Homo sapiens: one gene and its partners. The protein of the gene in region 3 purifies or fractionates together with the protein of the main gene of each other region. This does not show direct contact. Each region holds a gene or a part of one and is shown on either strand. Other genes may lie near its edges.

Region 1 (3,655 bases), on a different chromosome or scaffold from region 3:
TCCCCTTTTCACAGGGACATAAATGCCTAAAGTAGTCAATTAAAATAGTCCTATGAACCGGCTTCAAGTTGAATTGAGAACTGTAAATGATCCATACATTTTTTTCCCCCTGAGCTTGGGTAGGAGAGTTTGCTTTAATCCTAGAGTGATGCAGCAGTTTGATATGTTTATGAAGAGCAGAAACCAAAGCAGATTTGCATTTACGGGTTCATTGAAAATGTTCTTATTTGGATTGGATTGAAGATCAGTTTTAAATTTTATTCCAGGTCTTGCTCATGCCAAACTCTTGGACCCTTTTAATTATAATATGAAGTTAATACTTGTATGACTAGTTGTCCTTAGACAGTCTTTCATTTATTGAGACTTACTGTTCTTTTATTCTTTCTCTAATTATTATTTTTGAATCTTTTAAATGTATAGGATGATAATGAAGATAATTCAAATGATGGGACCCAGCCATCCAAAAGGAGGCGAATGGGCTCAGGAGATAGTTCTAGGAGTTGTGAAACTTCAAGTCAAGATCTTGGGTACTGTCATTTTATCGGTTATTAATATTTTTTGTGATGTTCCTCTTTGCCTTAACATCCTCTTCCCTTTCCCCCAGCTCTGGCAAAGGCAATTATTAAAAATTGTAGAATATTTTCTTCCTGTTCTATAATGTGCCATCAAAGTTGGTCTTGCTACTGAGTGTAATTAAAAAGCAATTTTATGATAGTAAAATACATACATACATAAAATTAATCATTTTAACAATTTTTAAGTGTGAAATTCATTGGCATCAGTTACATTCACAGTGTTGTGCAGCCATTACCACCATCCATTTCCAAAACTTTCACTACCCCAAACTTTATAACCATTAAGCAATAACCTCCCTTTCTCCCTCTATTTAGCGCCTTGCAACCATCATTCTACTTTCTATTTCCGTGAATACGACTACTTAGTTACTTCATATAAGTGGAACCATAAAATATTTGTCCTTTTGTGGCTGGCTTATTTCTCTTAGAACTTTGAATATCTTCAAGGTTCATCTTTGTAGCATATGTCAGACTTTTTTTCTGTTTTTAAGGCTGAATAATACTCCATTTTATGTATATACTGATTTTGTTTATCCATTCAGATGTTGATGGGCATTTGGGTTTCCACCTTCTGGCCAAGGTGAATAATGCTGCAGTGAGCATTGGTGTTCAGAGTTTGTGTTTTCAGTTTTTTTGGATGTTTATCTAGGAGTGGAGTAGCTGGATTATATGGTAATCCTATGTTTAATTTTTTGAGAAGCTGCCAAACTGTTTTCCATAGGGGCTGCACACCAATTTACATTCCTACCAGCAATTCACAGTTTCCAGTTTCTTCATATTTCTCACCAATTTGTTATTTTTCATTTTTTAAAATAATAGTTACCCTAAAAGGTGTGGAGTGATATTTTATTGTGATTTTGATTTGCATTTTCATAATGCCTACTGATATTGAACATCTTTTCATCTGCTTGGCCATTTGTATAGCTTCTTTGGAGACATGTCTATTCAAGTTCTTTGTCCATTTTTTATTTGGGGTTTTTTTTGTTGTAGGAGCTTTTTAAATATATTTTATATATTAATACTTCATCAAAAATATGATTTACACATATTTTCTCCTGTTCTGTGGGTTGTCTTTTCACTGTCTTGATAGTGTCCCTGTACAAAATTTTTAATTTTGATGAAGCCCAAATTTTTCATCTATTTTTTCTTTTGTTGCTTGTGCTTTTGGTGTCATATGTAAGAATCTACCTTCAAATCCAAGGTTGTGAAAGATTTCTATGTTTTCTTCTAAGAGTTTTCTAGTTAGCTCTTATATTTAGGTTGTTGATCCATTTTGAGTTGTGATATGAGGTAAAGGTCCAATTTTATACTTTTGCATGTGGATACCCAGTTTCCCAGCACCATTTTTGAGAACACTGTTCTTTTTGAAGGTTACTTTTTAAATAGATGGATGCATAACATAGTGTCACTTTCCCATGTCCAATATAGAGGTTGAATTGGCCCATATCCTGAAATCTGTACTCTGTTACTCAGGATGGAGATCGACTGTGATACCCTGGCACCTTCAAACTAGGTCCATTCTTTGCTTCTGGGTTTGTGGAGTATCTGAGAACAAACAGTTACGGTTTATGATATGATGCACTGAGATAATAGGTTTTTAAGAGTTCTGTTTTCTCAGCTATTTATGACTCACTGAACAGTAGACAAGAGACAGAAGTTGATTATTCTTTGGGTGGATGAAATACTGGCTATGCATTTTAAGCCCAAGAGAAAGAAGTCAGAGCTGATACCATCATCACCTTGCTTTGCCCTCATAGGTCCTTTAAACTAAAAATGCCTTCGTTCTTAGCAATTGTGATTCTACGTTCTTCCCAGTGTATAAAAGATGTTATTTTCACATACCTTTTTGACTTGGTAGACCAGATAATTATTTCTATTCCTTGTACCTGTTTTGTAATTTTCTTTGATACACAGGAAGTCAAGTCATAGGAGGCAAATAATTTAAATACTTAAAATAGTTTTCAAAATATCCTCAATAAAAGTGATTAAAAATTAATGAAAGCTACATTTAATGCATAATATGTATTTCTGTACTTAGTTTTAGTTACTATCCAGCAGAAAACTTGATAGAGTACAAATGGCCACCTGATGAAACAGGAGAATACTATATGCTTCAAGAACAAGTCAGTGAATATTTGGGTGTGACCTCCTTTAAAAGGAAATATCCAGGTACTAGTTTATATAATAGATTAATTTATAATTGATAGTAATTCTTTATGATACACTGTCAACTTCTGAATTTTTCTGTAGATTATATTTTATATTCTTGTGCTTGCTGTTTTTTTTTAAGACTAAGGGTCTCATTCTGTAACCCAGGCTAGAGCGCACTGGTGCGATTATAGCTCACTGCAGCCTTGCACTCCTGGGCTAGCTGTCTCCCTGCCTCAGCCTTCTAAGTATCTGGGACTACAGGTGTGCACCACGACGCGTGGCAGATTTTTTTAATTTTTATTTTTTTAGAGATGTGAAGTCTTGCTATGTTGCCCAGCGTGGTCTCAAACTCATGGCTTCAAGCTATCCTGCTGCCTCAGCCTCCTGAATTGCTAGGATTACAGGTGTGAGCCACCACGCCTGGCTGTGTTTCATTTACTGCTATCATTCAGCATCACTCTTCATTATTGATATTTTCTATGGCTCATAAACTGATTTAAAAGCAAAATGGGAAAGGTGAATTTCCTGAGGAAAATTTTAGAAAAAATCATTTTATAGTCAAGTTTGGGATTTTTACCATTGTTTCTTGATCTAAGGAATAGAGTTAGCTATATGAGCCGTATCTGAATTTGAGAAAGGCTATTCCTCATGAACTAGTTTAGTATAGTTATTTATATGACCTTCTTGCTTTGGATTATTCTATTTCCTATTTTATTCTAACTTTTGTATCTTGCTGAGTTTTATTTCTTGAATTTATAAATTTTTTTGTAGCCCCTTTAATAATATTTGGAATATGTAATATGAATACTTTAAAAAGTCAAGGTTTTTAAGCTTTTAAAAGTTTTACAAGTGCATAAGGTTTTGCTGTTTTTAATAGTCTTTTGATCTTTTTTTTGGAGATTTAGAGCGACGAGATTTGTCTCACAAGG
Region 2 (3,655 bases), on a different chromosome or scaffold from region 3:
TTGAACTCCTGACCTCGGGTGATCTGCCCGCCTTGGCCTCCCAAAGTGCTGGGATTCCAAGCGTGAGCTACCACGCCCAGTCTGATGTTTAACTTTATAAACATTGCTTCAACTCTGTAATTCTTCTGTTTTTCTGTTGCCTTCCTTTTTTAAATGCTTGAGTGAATAACACATTTATTCACAAGATTTAAAAATCAAGAAATTGTGACAAGGTTCAATCTCTTCTCTCCATTGTCTCTTTTTCCACCTTCCCTCCCACTTCCAAATGTAACTGTGGTTAGTTTCTTGTAAATCTTTCAAAGTTTCTTTATGCCCATCCAAGGCAAACATACATACCCCTATATATTCTTACTTCCTTTTACCTTGTTAGAAAAGTCTGTATACCGCACTCCCTTTCTGCCCCTTTGATTTTATCAGGGATTATCTTGGACACATCTTTGTTCTTCCTTCTTCGTTTATAGCTGCCTGGATTGCATATGGCATTTTGCATGTCTATGAGTTTATCTTTAAAACAAACTCCAGCTATAGAATTGCAAGGTCAAAGGGTATATGCATTTGTAATTTTCGGTAACTATTGACAGATTGCTCTCTATGAGTTTTGTGTTCATTTATACACCCACCTGCAATGTGTAGCCTGTTACTTCCAGTCTCATCACTAGTACAAACTTTATCAAACTTTATCGCAGCCAGTCTGATAAATGAAAAGTGGCTTGTCAGGATAGTTGTGAGGATTGAGATATCATTCTCATACCGACTAAATATAGGTCACCTTGGATTATGTTTACAGCTGCTGGTAATACTCTTCAAAGTAGGCCCTTTCAAAGTTACTCCTATGTTTCTTTGGCTTTCACAGTGTTTACATTTTGTTTGAGAGGATCAGTACATTGAGTGTCTATGTGGTGTCTTTTATATTTTTGTAGGCTTTGACACATCTTCCTCATCTTCGAACTCAGCAGCCTCCTCATCCTTCAAATTTGGTGTCTCATCATCCTCTTCTGGGCCTTCTCAGACTTTAACAAGCACTGGAAATTTTAAATTTGGAGATCAGGGAGGATTCAAAATAGGTGTGTCATCCGATTCTGGGTCTATAAACCCCATGAGTGAAGGCTTTAAATTTTCTAAACCAATAGGAGATTTTAAATTTGGAGTTTCATCTGAATCTAAGCCCGAAGAAGTTAAAAAAGATAGTAAGAATGATAATTTTAAGTTTGGACTTTCTTCTGGTTTAAGCAACCCAGTTTCTTTAACTCCATTTCAATTTGGGGTATCTAATCTTGGACAGGAAGAAAAGAAAGAGGAACTGCCCAAATCTTCCTCTGCAGGTTTTAGCTTTGGTACAGGTGTTATTAACTCCACCCCTGCTCCTGCTAACACCATAGTGACCTCTGAGAACAAGAGCAGCTTCAACCTTGGAACCATAGAAACCAAGAGTGCTTCAGTGGCTCCTTTCACATGTAAGACATCAGAAGCTAAAAAAGAAGAAATGCCTGCCACCAAAGGAGGATTCTCTTTTGGCAACGTGGAGCCTGCCTCTCTGCCATCTGCCTCAGTGTTTGTTTTGGGAAGGACAGAAGAGAAACAGCAAGAGCCTGTCACTTCTACTTCCCTAGTTTTTGGGAAGAAAGCTGACAATGAAGAGCCAAAGTGTCAACCAGTGTTTTCCTTTGGGAATTCAGAGCAAACCAAAGATGAGAATTCTTCAAAGTCCACATTTAGTTTTAGTATGACAAAACCATCTGAGAAGGAATCTGAACAGCCAGCAAAAGCCACTTTTGCCTTTGGAGCTCAAACTAGTACTACAGCTGGTAAGTATTAACTTTTTATTATTATTATTATTATTTTTTTTTTTACAAGTTGTCGTTTTACAAGTTGCCTTGACAGATGCAGCAAGTCAATTAATGGTTTACACTGAACATAGTTGAGAAATACAGAACTCTTTGGGAAGGAACCTAGGATTTTCAGTTTGAACTGCTCTTTAAAACCCTCATGATTCTGGTGAAGTCATCTGTGGATCTAATTTTGAGAAATACAGCAGTAATGCAAAGCTCAATATAGTGCATATTTATGTGTGTCTTTCTCTTCTGTTTGGGCTTTTATAATCAGAATTGGTATCTACTACCTGGAAAATAAGGATTCTTAGCTTATGAAGTATTTTCTACCATAATCTATGGGAAGGCCTTTATTTACAAATAGTTACAGATAACCAGTCCTCATCAAACATTAAGAAACATAGACAACAAATATAATTAATCCTGAGAAAACAAGAGATTTTGAAAGCTGAAGTCCTGGGGAAAAAAATGACATAGCACCTTAAAGGTTAAAAGCATGATTGTTGGTGGATCCTATTAAAGTCATTCTGTGAGCTGAATAGCAGGAAGAACTTCATAGCTGATAATCAGATTAGTGAACTAGAATTTCCCCAAACTTAGTGCACCAGTACAAAGAGTGATCCAAGTTAGATCCACAAGTTCCTTTGGGATAGGAGTGGCCTAGAAGATAAGAAGTTTTGGGGAAATATCAAAGAAGTGACAGAAGAAAATTTTCTAGATCTAAAGAAAGACATTGGTCTTAAAAATGGAAATTACCTATTGGCAAAGATCACTGAAATTTAGGACACCAAAGCTAAAACCCCAAATGCTTTCAGAGAGAAAAGCTATTTGCCACAAATAGGCAGGTATCAGATTAGCATCATCTTCTAATTTGTAACATCACATGCTAAAAACAACAGTGCCCTTAAAGTGAAAATGTTCTTGAACCTAGAATTCTGTTACTAGCCAAATGTGTTTAAATATAAAGACAATCCGGGTGCCGTAGCTCACACCTATAATCCCAACTAGTCGGGAGGCTGAAGCACAAGAATCTCTTGAACCTGGGAGGCGGAGGTGGCAGTGAGCAGAGATTGGCCCAGTGCACTCCAGCTTGGGCAACAGAACAAGGCTCTGTCTCAAGAAAACCCAACAACAACAAAAAAACACCAACACAAAGGCAAAATACAGATGTTTTTAGATGTGCAAAAAATGCAAAAGTTGAATATCCATGAATACTTTTGAATAATAAATTGGAAACACTCAAAATTAACCTTTAAAAAGTATGGAATTCAACAAATAGCTATGAGCAGTTTTTTGTCTGTTATATATTTACTTAGAAATATAAAGACAAAATCAAAACTAAAATTACATATTATTTGGAAAGCAACAAAAACATGATAGGGTCTAATCAGATTTGATGATGAAAACACCAGGCTATGGTAGACACTCTTAACCATTCTTCCATTAGCCAGGTTGAAAGTAAGCCAACATGTTCCATTTTCTGTAAGTCATACTAATGCCCATAGTGTACTGTGACCAGCCCTGGATAGTGTGCGGTATTGGAACTGAGAGATTATTGGAATAGTTTAGAAAAAAATCTTCAATAAGGTGGCTGGATTCAGAATCACCATATAAAAATCAAAAGTTTTTCTTCAAATCAGCATGTCTCATTTGTTTTTCCTAACATTTCTAACTTGTATTTTATAAAAGCAGCAGAACTTGTAACATGCCAAATAACTAAAAGAACACAAAAGGCATACTTGTTGCTGGGTGAAGGTATTCCCTTCCTCCTCCCATAATTTTAGTTCTTAGGGGAATTTTTGTAGAGCTTGACAAGCTAAACTTAT
Region 3 (3,655 bases):
ACTCTACAGTCGTACCTTATCAGCAGTGTGTTACCCCCAGGCCAGATGACTAAGGAAATCTGTAACCACGACTTTCAGGTTAACAGCATAGTGCTAAGTGAAAAAAGAAAAATGTTAAAACTGCAACTGTTTCCAAGCTTATTCTTAGACGGCCATCTTCCTTCTTTTGGAATCTTTCTGGTACTAGTACTTTTTTTCTCTACAAGTGTATCTCCTCACATATGTTTAGGGAAACCAGAATCCCAAGGATGTGAGTGTTTTGACAGGGTCAAAACTGATTTGGTGCTTTTTAACTAAAATCTTTGGTTATGGGGGTTTTTGGTTTTTTGTTGTTGTTGGTTTAAGATCTTAAGCACAGTTACATTCTGGGCTATAGTAACATCTAGATTACCATGTAACTATTTGCTTAGACATTAAAATATTCAGGAATGAAAGAACTCCCATTCGAACATATGCCAATGAAATGTGTGGAAAGATTACATTTAGTTAAGTACATTTAACTTGGGGCAAGTGCAGCCAGATGGTCCCCTCTATGAGTGTAGGAGCCCGTTAAGTTTAATATGATCTGAAACAACTATAGGTGAGAATTTTTGCATGAGAAATATTTTATTCCGACCCTACAGGGTAAAAGAAGGGCTATAAACTAAAGCCGAAGATATTCAGCAGCTTTCTGACGTGGACATCAGAAGTGTGGACATGAGTGTGCTTTGAGCGCACTGTGGAAGAGCAGTGGTTGTCCAGCAAGGTCCTAGGTGCCTCCGTGGCCTTTCGTACAGTGGGCAAGTTGGGCAGGACTCATCTTAAAAATCATGTGTATGTTATAAATAACAAAATTTATTTATTTATTTTTTTGAGACAGTCTTGCTCTGTTGCCCAGGCTGGAGTGCAGTGGTGCTATCTCGGCTCACTGCAACCTCCACCTCCCGGAGGGTTCAAGTGATTCTCCTGCCTCAGCCTCCCAGGTGGCTGGGATTACAGGTGCCCACCACCATGCCCAGCTAATTTTTCATTTTTAGTAGCGACAGAGTTTCACCATGTTGGCCAGACTGGTCTCAAACTCCTGACCTTTGGCCTCCCAAAGCGCTAGTATTATAGGCGCAAGCCATTGTGCCTGGCCAAAATTTATTTTTGAGAGGCCGGACACAGTGGCTCAGTTCTAGCTTGTTGTTGTTGTTGAGGATTTTGTCATCTGTTTGGCTTTATCTTACTGCTGCTTAATTTGTATTGTATTGCAGGTGGGAACATTCTCCATGGCCAGTGAGGAAGTCTTGAAGAATAGAGCCATAAAGAAAGCAAAGCGCAGAAATGTTGGATTTGAAGTGAGTGCCCCCTTACAGCTCTTGCTATTAAATACTCATTTGATTTCTGGGTTGCACAGCAATCCCTCCGCTGGGAGCAATGATATCAACAAATGCTTTCTTAAAATACTTATTCTTTGATGTAGGTCATGGGAGATAGAAAAAAATAAGAAACGTCAGGTCTGGACCTTAAAGAGAGCTTATCCAGTTGAGGAAATAAGATAAATATAGACAAATTCAAGTTGAGTGACAATCTGGAGAAGAAAAATGAGCAAAGCAATACAGAGGTGGGCGAAGTGGCATCAGATTGGAGGAAGAAAGGAAAACGCAAGGATCTTCTGAGAGTCTTGTCTGCTCCCTGCGATTGAGGCCTTGGTAGGGGGAGCCCTTTCACTATACTAGAGGCATTTTAGGTGTGGATTTTTTGCTAGTATAGTATATTAAAATGATTCATTCCTGTGCTAAGAAGGATGGAAGATGAGTTGTAACTCCTAAATTGAAATAATGTGCTGATTATTAAGCAGTCACTCCGCATCTAAGAACTCGTCCCCAGTACATCCTCTCCCTTCAGATACATTCTAGACCCAGGAGAGTGTGGTCTTGGTGGCCTGGACATCTGGTGTTAGGCAGGAGATGCCGCTTTGAATATCCTGGGTGGCAGCTTTGAAATAAACCTACCCTACCTCACGTTTTGCAGTGTTTAAAACATCAAGAATAGACTATATTCTTGGGTGTCTCTAATCTGGAAATCCAAAATGCTCCAAGATCTGAAGCTTTTTGAGCACCAACGTGATGCTCCAAGGAAATAGTCATTGGAGGATCTCAAATGGTCAGGTTAGAGGTGCCGTGCCAGTAAGCATAATGCAGACTTCCTGGGAGCGGAAATACTTACTTTCCTGAGCGTTCTCCTTAAGGGACATGCAAGCTTATTTCCCTTTTATTTCCAAAAAAAAAGGATAGGAAAGGTGTATCATTCACACTTTGAGAAGCAATGAAAAGAAATTGTTATTACAAAAATATTCATTACATTGCCAAAGTTTTGATCATAAAATGTATTAAAGTTTGAAAACGTAAGGAAGGGAGCCAGGTAGGTGGCAGTGGTGGGGAGGCAGTCAGTAAGACGTTTACAACAGCCAGTCACTCAGAGCGTCTCATAAATGGTGGTATGTGTTAATGGGAAAACAATTCAAATTATAAAAATAAAGTATTCGCAATTTTCCTAAAATATATTACTGTATATACCAATATAGTGTAATTCGAGGCAGAGATACGTAATCCTACATGAAATCGATTCTCAGGTGGTTCTGGGTAGTCTTGAACGTCTTTAGGATGCCATGGCTAATGTCATAAGTGTGTGCTCTTTCTCTGCTCCATTGCATGCTTCAGATGCATGAGAGGAGCTTCATTTCCTGACGTTGTAAAAGCTCTTTCATGTAGAATTCAGGTTAACGGGTTGCACTGCCAAGAAAGGAAGTAGGTACAGAGGAAGCATATCTCAGATCCAAGCTAGAGATTAGGTCTTGTGTTTTGTAATTAATTAATTATATTTTGCTTAAAAATTGTATTTCTTATTTGACAAAAATTATATACTTATGGTGTACAACATGGTCTTATTTTCAGATGCATAATACATTTCTACCTGCCTGTTGTACAGTAAACCTCTTGAACTTCAGGTGTTTTTTTTTTTTTTTTGTCTGGTTTGATTTTATGAATTGCCTTGACTGGTGACTAGGTGGTAGACGTAGGTGTTGAGCTGAGTGATATTTGATGGCTCTTTCACTGGGAAGATACATGGGGGGAGGGACAGTTTAATTAAGGAGGAAATGGTTGGTCTTGGAAATGCTGTATTTGAAAGGCCTTGGTACACTCAAGTGGAGTGCCCTGGAAGACCACTAGGTATACAACAGGAATTATGGCAAGGATGGGCACAGCTCCGGCAGCTTTCGTCATGTGGGGGATTGAGGCCATGGGAATGGGCGACAGGAGGCATGCAGGTGGAGGGTCCTACGAGGAGTGAGAAACAAAGCTCACTGCAGAAGCCAAGGGAAGCCATTCTGAAGGAGGGGCAGTCACCTGTGCAACCGAAGGAAGTTCAAGAGGTAGAAATAGTACAGACCATAATCTACAACTTAAGCTGAAGGGATGAGGGAAGGAGAGGGCAGGAGCCCTTGGGCAACTAAGGGAAATTAAGTGTAGGTGGATAATAGAAATCCACAGATAATTTTAGCTGTAACTCTTAGCCTGAAGTTTTCATATATTAGGACAATTAAATGTCATGTCACCCACCAGAATGCTGAAATGCGGCTTTTCCTAAATAGTGGATTCAGTAGATCTGCTAAGCACTGGAGATGTATTGG

What was found.
Region 1: the proteins of NUP50 (region 3) and PHF10 purify together in Homo sapiens (affinity purification with mass spectrometry; 4 studies listed by BioGRID and IntAct, with this or other methods). This does not show direct contact.
Region 2: the proteins of NUP50 (region 3) and NUP153 purify together in Homo sapiens (affinity purification with mass spectrometry; 10 studies listed by BioGRID and IntAct, with this or other methods). This does not show direct contact.

The regions. Positions count from the first base shown.
Region 1 is NC_000006.12:169,717,877-169,721,531, reverse strand, and holds part of PHF10 (PHD finger protein 10), read left to right. Parts: intron 1-420; coding exon 421-527; intron 528-2,613; coding exon 2,614-2,744; intron 2,745-3,625; coding exon 3,626-3,655. UniProt on the Homo sapiens protein: Involved in transcription activity regulation by chromatin remodeling. Belongs to the neural progenitors-specific chromatin remodeling complex (npBAF complex) and is required for the proliferation of neural progenitors.
Region 2 is NC_000006.12:17,626,805-17,630,459, reverse strand, and holds part of NUP153 (nuclear pore complex protein Nup153), read left to right. Parts: intron 1-920; coding exon 921-1,805; intron 1,806-3,655. UniProt on the Homo sapiens protein: Component of the nuclear pore complex (NPC), a complex required for the trafficking across the nuclear envelope. Functions as a scaffolding element in the nuclear phase of the NPC essential for normal nucleocytoplasmic transport of proteins and mRNAs.
Region 3 is NC_000022.11:45,170,365-45,174,019, forward strand, and holds part of NUP50 (nuclear pore complex protein Nup50), read left to right. Parts: intron 1-623; exon of another isoform or gene 624-813; intron 814-1,235; coding exon 1,236-1,319; intron 1,320-3,655. UniProt on the Homo sapiens protein: Component of the nuclear pore complex that has a direct role in nuclear protein import. Actively displaces NLSs from importin-alpha, and facilitates disassembly of the importin-alpha:beta-cargo complex and importin recycling.